Linked DNA regions of Homo sapiens: region 1 is linked to region 2. Evidence: fine-mapped expression QTL. A gene starts in region 2. The other region holds a variant in brackets. All regions are shown on one strand. Distances are between the middles of the regions.

The links. PIP is the estimated chance that this variant, and not a neighbour inherited with it, causes the effect. A credible set is the group of variants that fine-mapping cannot tell apart.
Region 1: its variant is the best candidate, but not a certain one, in a credible set for the expression of ADGRG5 in blood mononuclear cells (TOPMed, PIP 0.55).

What each region holds. Positions count from the first base shown.
Region 1 is chr16:57,613,884-57,619,183 of GRCh38, forward strand. No RefSeq gene overlaps it. Among named protein-coding and RNA genes, the nearest start is that of ADGRG1, 12 kb to the right of the region's middle. RefSeq lists enhancers at 708-757, 878-937. The variant G/A (reference allele first, on the strand shown) is at 3,259.
Region 2 is chr16:57,540,052-57,545,378 of GRCh38, forward strand. ADGRG5 (adhesion G protein-coupled receptor G5) reads left to right here and starts at 2,592. Exons shown (of 12, transcript NM_001304376.3): 1 at 2,592-2,650. RefSeq lists enhancers at 2,372-2,541, 4,046-4,355 and a silencer at 3,936-3,985.

The sequences.
Region 1 (5,300 bases), 74 kb after region 2:
TTACTTCATTGATTGTTTAATTTCTTACCTTACTTCCTCATCAAGCCATCAGCTCCATGAAGGCAGGGATGGTTTCTGGGCTCTGTCAGGTATGCAGAGCCCAGCTTGAGGCCTGGCACTTGGTGGGTACTTAGGAAATGTTCGTTGAATGAATGAATAAAATACATTCACTGAGAAACTGTATGACCTAGAGATAAATCATGGACCTATGGTCCAACAGAGATATGGATTCAAGTCCTGCCACTGGCACTTATTGCTGGTGTGCTCTGGGACAGGTTCCTAAATCTCTTTAGGCCTCAGTCTCCCTGTCTATAATCCCCTATGTAATTCCCTTCAAATGATTGTTATGGGGATTAAATAAATCAATCCATGCAGTTTTAGGAATGGGCTTGGCACAGAGAGGTGCTTGGGAGTGTTGGATGCCAGTATTCTTATAAGTAAAGGGATGTGGGACTTTGGGGTTCAGGGGTTCAGGGGTTCAGAGCCTGACTTTCCATAAAAGAGGACGGGATAACTCCAAGAGGAGTTCTTGGAAGAAGGGGCATTTGAACTGGGCCATAAAGGGGGGTGGATGGCGTTTCTCTAGGCAGAGATGGCAGTAGGGAAATCAGGAGCCAGGAGGGACATCTGGTCCCAGAAAGAGATCTGCGGGCAGGCCAGGCCTGCTCCTGGCTGGTCCCAGAAAGAGACCTGCGGGCAGGCCAGACCTGCTCCAGGGCTGGGAGGAAAGCCACTGGGTGCCAGGGATACGCTCAGTATGAGCTGCCTTGTTCTAGGCCACGGCCTCTGCCCCCAGTCTTGACATTTGGTTTTCACCTGTTTCCTCTGGGTAGTTGACACACAGCAGCTGCTGACTCTGAGGAGGCATGGGGAGGCCCAGCTGAAAATGCCCCCGGAGGAGGTGACTCAGTAGCTCCTATCTCGACCCTGGCAGAACTCAGGTAACTCAAGACACGGGGCAAACCTGAAGAGGCCCCCAGAGCTGTACCAGGAAAGCTCTGCAGTGTCATGGAACACATGGAAGTGGCCTGATGCTACTGACTCACAGAGGCTTGGTGGATTGCTTTGAGTTGTTTTCGGTCACCCTCCATCTCCTTGTCTGTAAAACGGGGACAGGCACTCCTCAGAACTGCTGGGACAGTCCGGGGAGCCTTTTGGTTGGCACAGTGTGTTTCAGAGTGGTTCTCTGTCCCCCCGCCCCAGGCATCCTCATGTGATTCGCTTGAAAACACGGCAGGACGGGTCCTGTCATTATCCCCGTTTCACAGATGAGGAACACTGAGGCTCAGAGGAGGGCCCTGACCTGCTCAGTACCACATAGCTGGAGAGTGATAGATCCAGGGCTGGAGTCAGACCCCAGACAGTGCACAGATGGATGATCACATATTGACGGAACTTGGGTGTGACCACAGGATACAGAGAGTGGAGAACTGATCTGATGAACTGACTGCAGGAGGCAGGGTAATACCATGGCCTAGCTAGCCCTCACCTCTTTTCTAGAAAGCATGGTGAGGATGGGGGTGCTGATCCTAGGGCTGGCTGCGGAGCAGTGGCATGGAGACCACCTTCCAGTTGTGGCCAGAATGGAGGAAAGTTTTCCTATTGCTCTAATATGAGGAGGCAACACTGCAGACCAGAATGAGTTAAAAGGTCAGTAATTTATTTTTATTTTTATTTTTTGAGACAGTGTCTCTCTCTGTCGCCCAGGCCGGAGTACAGTGGCACAATCTCAGTTCACTGCAACCTCTGCCCCCTGGGTTCTAGCGATTCTCCTGCCTCAGGCTCCCAGGTAGCTGGGACTACTGGTGTGTAACACCATGTCCAGCTAATTTTTTGTATTTTTAGTAGAGACAGCATTTTGCCATGTTGGCCAGGCTGGTCTCAAACTCCTGGCCTCAAGTGATCCACCCACCTCAGCTTCCCAAAGTGCTGGGATTAGAGGCGTGAGCCATTTCGCACAGACCAAAGGTTAGTAATTTAAATTCTCCTCTGGATTTTGATGTGGCAGATGTTTACTGAGCACTTAGCCACGTGCCAGCCATGGGTGGTAGCACTTAGCATTGTCTCATTTAGTCCTTACAACTCCATGGATAGATACTGCTATCACCCCCATTCTGCAGATGAGCAAACCAAGGCTAAGGGAGATAAACCAACCGGTCAGTGGAGCCGGGTACCGACCCAGACGGTCTGCTCTAGAGCCCCATGGCTAATCACGCCTCTGCTGCCTGCTCTGTGGGCTGTTTTCTAAGTAAATCTAAGGCCCTGGTACCCAGTAGTTGCTGTGCAAATATCGGGTTAGCGGATGAATACATGAATTAGTGAAAAATGGCCCAAGTAAAATAACCTGTGAGTAGGAGGTGATTTTAGAGACCATTTAGTCCTCCCTGTAGATGTGGTAAGTGTCTTATCTGCAACGCCCTAGCTGCACAACTCCTTGGCTTCCCTCTGAGACAGGTAGCTCACCCCCGACCTTGTGGGCAGCACCAGCTCTCAGAGGGAGCAGAGAGGCTGAGCCCGCGGCCCTGCTGGAGCACAAGATGTCAGAGCTGGGGACCCTTCCTGCCCCTCCACACCTCCTATGTGCCCCAAGAGGGAAGGAGTCTGCATTTCCTGAGGCCCTCCACTGAGTGGGGATGAGGGGTGGGCAGGCTGAGACTGGGCTTACCCAGGGCTCAATAAGGGGCCTGGAGTCCTGGTGGGAGTTCTGGAGTCAGACTGCCTGGGTGGGATCTCCGTCGCGTTCCTGAACCCCCTGTGCCCTATCTGTAAAACCCGCATTATAAAGTGGCTCCCTGAGGTCAGGAGTTCGAGACCAGCCTGGCCAACGTGGTGAAACCCCATCTCTACTAAAAATACAAAAGGTAGCCAATTGTGGTGGCACATGCCTGTAATCCCAGCTACTTGGGAGGATGAGGCAGGAGAATTGCTTGAACCCAGGAGGCGGAGGCTGCAGTCAGCCAAGGTCACATCACTGCACTCCAGCCTAGGGGACAAAGCAAGACTCCATCTCAAAAAAAAAAAAAAAAAGAAAAAAAGTTATAAAGTGGCTTCCGCCTCTCGGGGTATGGTGAGGAGTCTGTGGGCTGATTCCTGTAATGGGCCTAGCACAGTGCCTGGTTGCCAGGATTACATAATAGCTATTATTATCATCTGCAGCCACCAGACATAGAACTGGACACTCTCCGGCTCCACCCCTTCATCCCAGGGGTGCTGGGCTAGGTCCCGGATTGGTGGTGAGGGAGGAGTCCCAGAGCCAAA[G/A]CCCTGACCTCACAAATGCTCCCTAGGTACCTGATGAAGCAATTTCCTGACCCTGTCTCTTTTCTTCCCTTTATTTATTTTATTTTATTTATTTATTTTTTTTGAGACAGAGTTTCACCTTGTTGCCTAGGCTGCAGTGCAATGGCACGATCTCAGCTCACTGCAACCTCCGCCTCCTGGGTTCAAGCGATTCTCCTGCCTCAGCCCCCAGAGTAGCTGAGATTACAGGCATGTGCCACCACTCCTGCTACTTTTGTATTTTTAGTAGAGACGGAGTTTCACCATGTGGGTCAGGCTGGTCTTGAACTCCCGACCTCAGGTGATCCACTCGCCTCGGCCTCCCAAAGTGCTGGGATTACAGGCGTGAGCCACCACGCGCAGCTTCTTCCCTTCACTTTTAGAAGGCAAACAAGGCAAAGGCATGTGCCCTCATTTACTAGATGATCTGAGGCACAGAGAGGTTAAGAAACCTCCCCGAGTGTACCTAGTGAGTGAAGGTCCCAGCCCAGGGCCTCAGGCCCAGCCCCTGCTGCTCCATCACAAGCCAGGGACCCTGAGGCCAGAGGTCATGGGGGATGGAGCATGGGTGTCAGGCGTGGCGGAGTTGCCAGCGGGTAGACAGGAAGTCACTGGGACTCCCTTGGTGTCCTTATCAGGGTGGGTGACATCTCTGGGGCTGTGGGGAAACCCCGGAGCCTAGAGGTCAGGCTGTCATCCTGCAGATCCCCCTCTCTCTGACACTCCTTCTCCCTTCTGGTACCCCAACCCTGTCTGTACTCAAGCAGGAGACTCGTAGGGCAGAGCAGGCCTGCAGGCCCATGGGTGCGGCAAAGGTGGCATCGACTGTTGGGAATTTGCCATGGGGAAGAGGGGCAAGAGGGAGCTGGGACTGGGAATGCCAGTGGGGTCTGGGCTGGTCTTCAGGAATGGACCTGGGCTGTGGCCAGCAGATAACCCTTCTTTACTGCCTTGGGGAGTCAGAGAGGGCTCCAGTCCAGACCTGGATCCACCTCTGCTCCCATCTGACCACCTGTCCACATCCCTGTTTCACCTCTTGCATCTCATCTCTACCTCAGCTCCTTTGTTCAGCCACAGAATCAAGCTGGCCTCCTCCTCCTTGCTCCTTAAACACCAATCCCTGGTCTCAGGGGATGTCCCAAAGGCCGCTTTCCCCACTATATTCAGTCCGTGCACAGGTGTCCCTTCCCAGAGAGCATCTAAGCTGCCCATCCCACCTCCATCACTCTTTCCCCTTTCCTGGCTTATTTTTGTTCCATAATTCTTACCACTGGATTTATTTATTTATTTGAGACTGAGTCTCACTCTGTCACCCAAGCTGGAATGCAGTGTCGAAATCTCGGCTCACTGCCACCTCCGCCTCCGGGGCTCAAGCAATTCTCCTGCCTCAGCCACCTGAGTAGCTGGGACTACAGGCATCTGCCACCATGTCCGGCTAATTTTTGTTATGTTTAGTAGATACAAGGTTTCACCACGTTGGCCAGGCTGGTCTTGAACTCCTGACCTCAGGTGAGCCACCTGCCTCGGCCTCCCAAAGCACTGGGATTATAGGCGTCAGCCACTGCACTCCGCCGCCACTGGATATTTTTAATAATTACTTGCTTATTCATTTCTTGTCTCTCCTACAGTTCTGAGGGCAGAGGTTTCTATGTTTTCTTGGCTGCAGGATCCCCCATGCCTGGCACAGGACCTGGTGCACAGCAGGCCCTCAATAGACACTCGCTGAAGGCGTGGTGCATCCCCTGCCTGTCCACACTTTCATCCATCCACCGTCTGTGCTTTCTTCCCACACTTCCTCACCCATCAATCACCCAGAATTTCTCGATCCCAGGCCCTGTGCTGGTTCTTGGGTTTGGTGCGCTAGCAGGGCACACGGATCAGGAAAGAAAGAATTCCGACACTTAGGGATTGGTCCCAGCCAAGGGGGAGCCTGGGGGACTATGGGAGAAACAGTGGGGTGAGGGGAGGTGAGGGAAGGTTTATAGGGTGCATTGAGGTGCATGCAGCACCTCGCACCAGGCGTG
Region 2 (5,327 bases):
GGCCAACATGGTGAAACCTCATCTCTACTAAAAATACAAAAATTCGCTGGGCGTGGTGGTGTGCACCTGTAGTCCCAGCTACTTGGGAGGCTGAGGCAGGAGAATAGCTTGAACCTGGGAGGCAGAGGTTGCAGTGAGCCGAGATTGCGCCACTGCACTCCAGCCTGGCGACAGAGTGAGGCTCTGTCTCAGACAAACAAACAAACAAACAAAAAACAAAAGAAACAGTTTAGCTCTAAGCTGAGGCTTTTGCTGGACACAACCAAGATTGAAAAAGATGTGTAAATGACTTTTTTTGCATTGTGACTGTTTATCTAAAGTCCTGTCGGGGTCCCACCTACAATCTTCTTGCAGGCTACTCACCAGGGTAAGTAGCCCCCATATAGGGAGACACTTTACTGAGATGGTATGTGGCCTCCTCCCTGCCTGGGGGCCTGAGAGGAGACTGGCAGGCTTCCTACTGCTCAAGCATCCAGAGTGTTTTGTAGAGGAGCAGGAGGCAGAGAAGCCTTCCTGGAGGAGCAGGAGGCAGAGAAGCCTTCCTGGAGGAGGCAGGATCCAGTGGAGCCCTGATGGGTGGAGAGGAGCTGGAGGGCTTCCCAGGTACATGTGTGGGACCACAGCTGGGACCGAGCAGGGAGGTGGGTATTAATATGGCAAGCACAATCAGACTGGGTGGCAATGGAAGTTGGACGGGGTTAGACTGTGAAGGCAATAGGGAGCCACCACTGGTTTTTTGTTTGTTCGTTTTGTTTTTGAGGTGGAGTCTCACTCTGTTGCCCAAGCTGGAATGCAGTGGTGCGATCTCGGCTCACTGCAACCTCCACCTCCCGGGTTTAAGCGATTCTTGTGCCTCAGTCTCCCGAGTACCTAGAATTACAAGCATGTGCCACCACACCCGGCTAATTTTTGTATTTTTAGTAGAGACGGGGTTTTGCCATGTTGCCCAGGCTGGTCTCAAACTCCTAGCCTTAAGTAATCTGCCTGCCTCCACCTCCCAAAGTGCTGGGATAACAGGCCTGAGTCACCGCACCCAGCCTCACCACTGGCTTTTGAGCAGGAGAGTATCTTGGTAGTGAGCTTCAGGATCAGGAGTGCAGGGCTAAGTAACGGGCACTAACTTAGCCCCCAACTGAAGCAAGGCACAGTGAGGCTGGTACAGACCCAGGCTAGAGGGGCTATGGGGTAGGCAGGGCCTCCTCCTGAGCCCTAAGAATAGCCAGTTGGGCTCACATTCAGCATGAGGAAGGAGGAGGTTGGCATGGCAATCCTAGAGGTAGCTGGGTGACCTCGGAAAGGAAGAGCCTGGAGGTCAAGGTCTGGATCCTGATCAAAGAAAACCGAAGCGCAAAGAAGGGCCAAGGCTTGCCCAAGTCACCCAGAGGGAGTGTAGCCCAGGAGTCAGGACACAGGTGCACCGGTGTCCCTGCAAAACCTTCACCGTGCAGCTGGGGTGGGGACCTGGCTGCCCTCCAAGGAGCAGCTCCCTCCTGCTTCAGCAGAGGCCACTTGTACTACCTGCAAGCTGTATTTGGGCTGATGCGGGAAGGGCCCCAGTGAGGCAGAGAGCGGGGAGACCATGTTAGGACCTGTCTGGTTTCTCCCTTTTGCTGCCTCTCCATCTTTCCCCCAGGGCTGGAAGAGCACATTCCTGAGTCAGTTTTCCCAGGAGTCTGGATGGGGCCCAGGCAAGAGAGAGCACCGTCTCCCCATTACCAACACTCTCTCTCTATCCCCCACACACACCTCCTTGCTTTCCCTTAGAGCTCTTCAGAGGGTATGGCTGATGCAGGACAGGCCTATCCAGCTGCCTGGCTCAAGGAGAAGCTGGCCAGCTTTCCAGCCTCATGTTTTCTGGGCTCTGTGGCCAGGGAGGCCCCTCTCCACCATGCTCTGCCACTTGGCAACTCTGGGCCAGGCCCAGGTCCTCTCTGGGCTTCAGGTCCCTCATCTGTGAAATATGACGGCTTCATAGAGCACTTCCAGTGACTTTGCCAGCCTTACCTTTTGTAAGCCCCACACTGCCCTGCAAGATGGTACTGTCATTATCTCCATTTTACAGAGGGGAAACAGGTTCAGAGAGCATGAGTGGCTTGCCCCAAGTCACCCACCCAGTAAGTGGTGGGCTTGGTACTTGAACCCAGGCAGTCTGACCAAGCTGCTGCCTGAGGTCTTTGCCATCATCAATATGCCATCAATTGTCAGGTCAGGCAGGGATCATTTTCCCTTTTCTATAGATGGGAAAACTGAGGCCCAGAGGGGCAACATGTCTTGCCCAAAGGTGCAGAGCTCAGGTGGGTCTTGCGCACTGCATAAGGCCACGTTGCCATGTCCTTGAGCACCTCCACAGAGGAGCAGCCACCCCAGGAAGTAGCTGCAGACTCTACGGGGTGATACCCTCAAAGGGTGACCAGGGCATGACCGACAGCTCGAAGGAAGCAAAGAGGCTGCTGCTGGTGAAAGAAGAAGTGAAGTGAGAGTGTGGTGCCTGGGCCTGGGGTGAAGGGAGCAGAGAGAAGTGCAGTGGGGGTGCAGGTGTGGGGCAAAGGGAGAGGCCACCCACAGACGCCTCCCGACTTCCCCTTCTTCCTGCAGAAGCTACAAGACAGCAGCCGAGACAGCAGCTGAGACGGCAGCGGCAGCTTCTCAGGTCAGCCTCCTCCGGGCCTCTCCCCACTCTCCTCTGCCCAGTTCTCTGTCCTTATCCACAGGCCCCTCAGTGGGCACTGGCCATACCCATGTCCAGGTGGGCACAGACCTGGTGATATCCTGGTGAGCAAGCTGGGGACCCACCCTCCTTCCCTTTCTGGTTGGCAGCTCCACATCTGGGGCAATGTAGAGATCTGTGCTTTTGGAAGGAGGGGCAATTTAAATTAAGAAGTGGTTAGGCATGGGTCTCGAATCTTAGCTTCCCCGCGAGGTCTGGGACAAGTGAAGAGAGGTTTCTTTTCTGGACCTCAGTTTCTCATCTGTAAAATGGGGTGAGTCTGGGAACCTGCACCTTGGATGGCTGTCAGGGGCTCAGTAGAGGACCTGGCACACAGTTTGTGCTTGGCAATCTGGAGCAGGTGCAGCTCCTTTCAGAGTGACCTGGATTGGATCCTGGGGACAGCATGTCTCAGGTAAATGGACCTGCTGCTGGCTTGGTCACAGACTTCCTGTTGGGCTCCAGGGTGGCCTCTCTTTCCCAACCTGGGAAATAGGGTTACTATAGCATTTCTTAGGGCTTTTTTTTTTTTTTTTTTTTTTGAGACGGAGTCTTGCTTTGTTGCCCAGGCTGGAGTGCAGTGGTGCGATCTCGGCTCACTGCAACCTCCACCTCCCAGGTTCAAGCGATTCTCCTGCCTTAGCCTCCTGAGTAGCTGGGATTACAGGCACCAGCCAGCATGCCTGGCTAATTTTCGTAATTTTAGTAGAGGCGGGATTTCGCCACTTTGGTCAGGCTGGTCTCGGACTCCTGATCTCAGGTGATCCACCTGCCTTGGCCTCCCAAAGTGCTGGGATTACAGGCGTGAGCCACCGTTCCTGGCCTGTTAGTGCTTTTTTGCAGAGACCACAGGTTGATTGATTCCTCACCCAGGCCAGGGGCAGGGGCTCCAGACTGTGGTTGGCAGGGGCAGGTGGGGCTGTGTGCGGAGAATGGCTGGCTCAGTAGGCCTTCGTGCTGCTGGGGAGAGGTGGGCTTCGGGGGTGCATGGTCAGCTGTAGGGAGGAAGGCAGGGGTTCCCAAGCCTTGTGCTCAGATGTATTCCTGGCCAAGGACTTTGATCAGAGCCCTGGACCTTTCTCAGGGCCTGATTCCCAGGAGAGGATCAGGGAAATTGTTGTTTGAATTTCTCTTTCTGGGAAATAGATTTCCTTGGCCTCATTTTACAGATGAGAAAACCTGAGACACAGAGAGGTCAGGTGCCTGCCCAGTGTCACACAGCCTAGGCACTGAATACTGCAACTGGTTATCAAATTCTCATCTTCCAAAGGCTCTGTCCTGTGCTCCACAGCTCCTCATTTCTCTATTGGCCTAAATAGAGTCTTACTTGTCTGCAAAGCAACTCAGCTGCCCAACCATCTTTGGGAGGCTGCAGTGTGCAGGGGGTAGTGCCCTGGACCGTGGAGGCCTGGGTTTGAGTCCCAGCTTGCCCACTGGCCTGCTGTAGAACCTCAAGCAGACTCCTCTTACGCAGTATTCGGTTTCCCCACCATCAACTGGAACCATCCTGGAAGTCAGATAAGGGATTGCTGTTTCCTAGAAGGCCACAAATAATGAATTGCAGGGTGGAGAATGAAATGGCTCAGCGTGTGGGGGGATGGTGCATGGTGACCTCTCTGAAGGGATGTGGAGGGGAATTTGGAGGTTGCAAGCAGAAGTGAAGACTGTGGTTTGCTCCTGGGAAAGGGGGTGGAAACCACAGCTTCTATCTGGAGTGCCTGGGGGAGGTATCACTTCTGCTTTGGCCTCAATTTCTTCAGTTGTGTGGTAGGGTCAGGCTTTTCTTCCCTCAGTGCCTGCCTGGAACCAGTGGGGGTAAGAGCCTGGTCTTACACCTTGCAGGTCAAATCCATCTATCTCTCTGGGCCTCAGTTTCACCAACAGTATAGTGAAGGGGTGGACAAATTGGCCCAAGATCCTTTCTGTGCTGTCAGGTCCTCCACTACTGGGCCTGAGTTATCTCTCCTGAATGAGTTCCTTCAGTAGCTTCTTTTGCCTCCCCAAACCTTTCTGTTTTTTTGTTTGTTTGTTTGTTTTGTTTTGCTTTGGAGACAAAGTCTCACTCTGTCACCCAGGCCGGAGTGCAGTGTCACAATCACGGCTCCCAGGCTCAAGTAATCCTCTCATCTCAGCCTCCTGAGTAGCTGGGACCACAGGCTCATGCCACCATGCTGGGTTAGGTTTTTTAATGTTTAATTTTGTAGAGATGGGGTCTCCCTATGTTACTCTGGCTGGTCTCAAACTCCTGGGCTCAAGTGATCCTCCTGCTTCAGCCTCCCAAAGTGCTGGGATTAAGGCATGAGCCACCACACCCGGCTCCCCCAAATCTTGTCCCTTGTCTTTTCTCTGAGGTTCTGAGAGGGTAAGTAAATAGCACAGCCAAATAAATAACCAAATAACCAAATAAATAAGAACCCAGTCCTCTGTGACTCCATAGTCTCTATTTCGTATTAAAAATAAACATATATATTTAAAAAATTCATGTTAAGAAAAATGGGTGACCACCTGGAGAAAAAATGAAATTGGATTTATATCTCCCAGTGCATCCCAGTATCAATGCAAATGGACTGGAGATTTCAATTTGAAAAATGAATCTATAAAAGTACTGGAAGAAACAGGC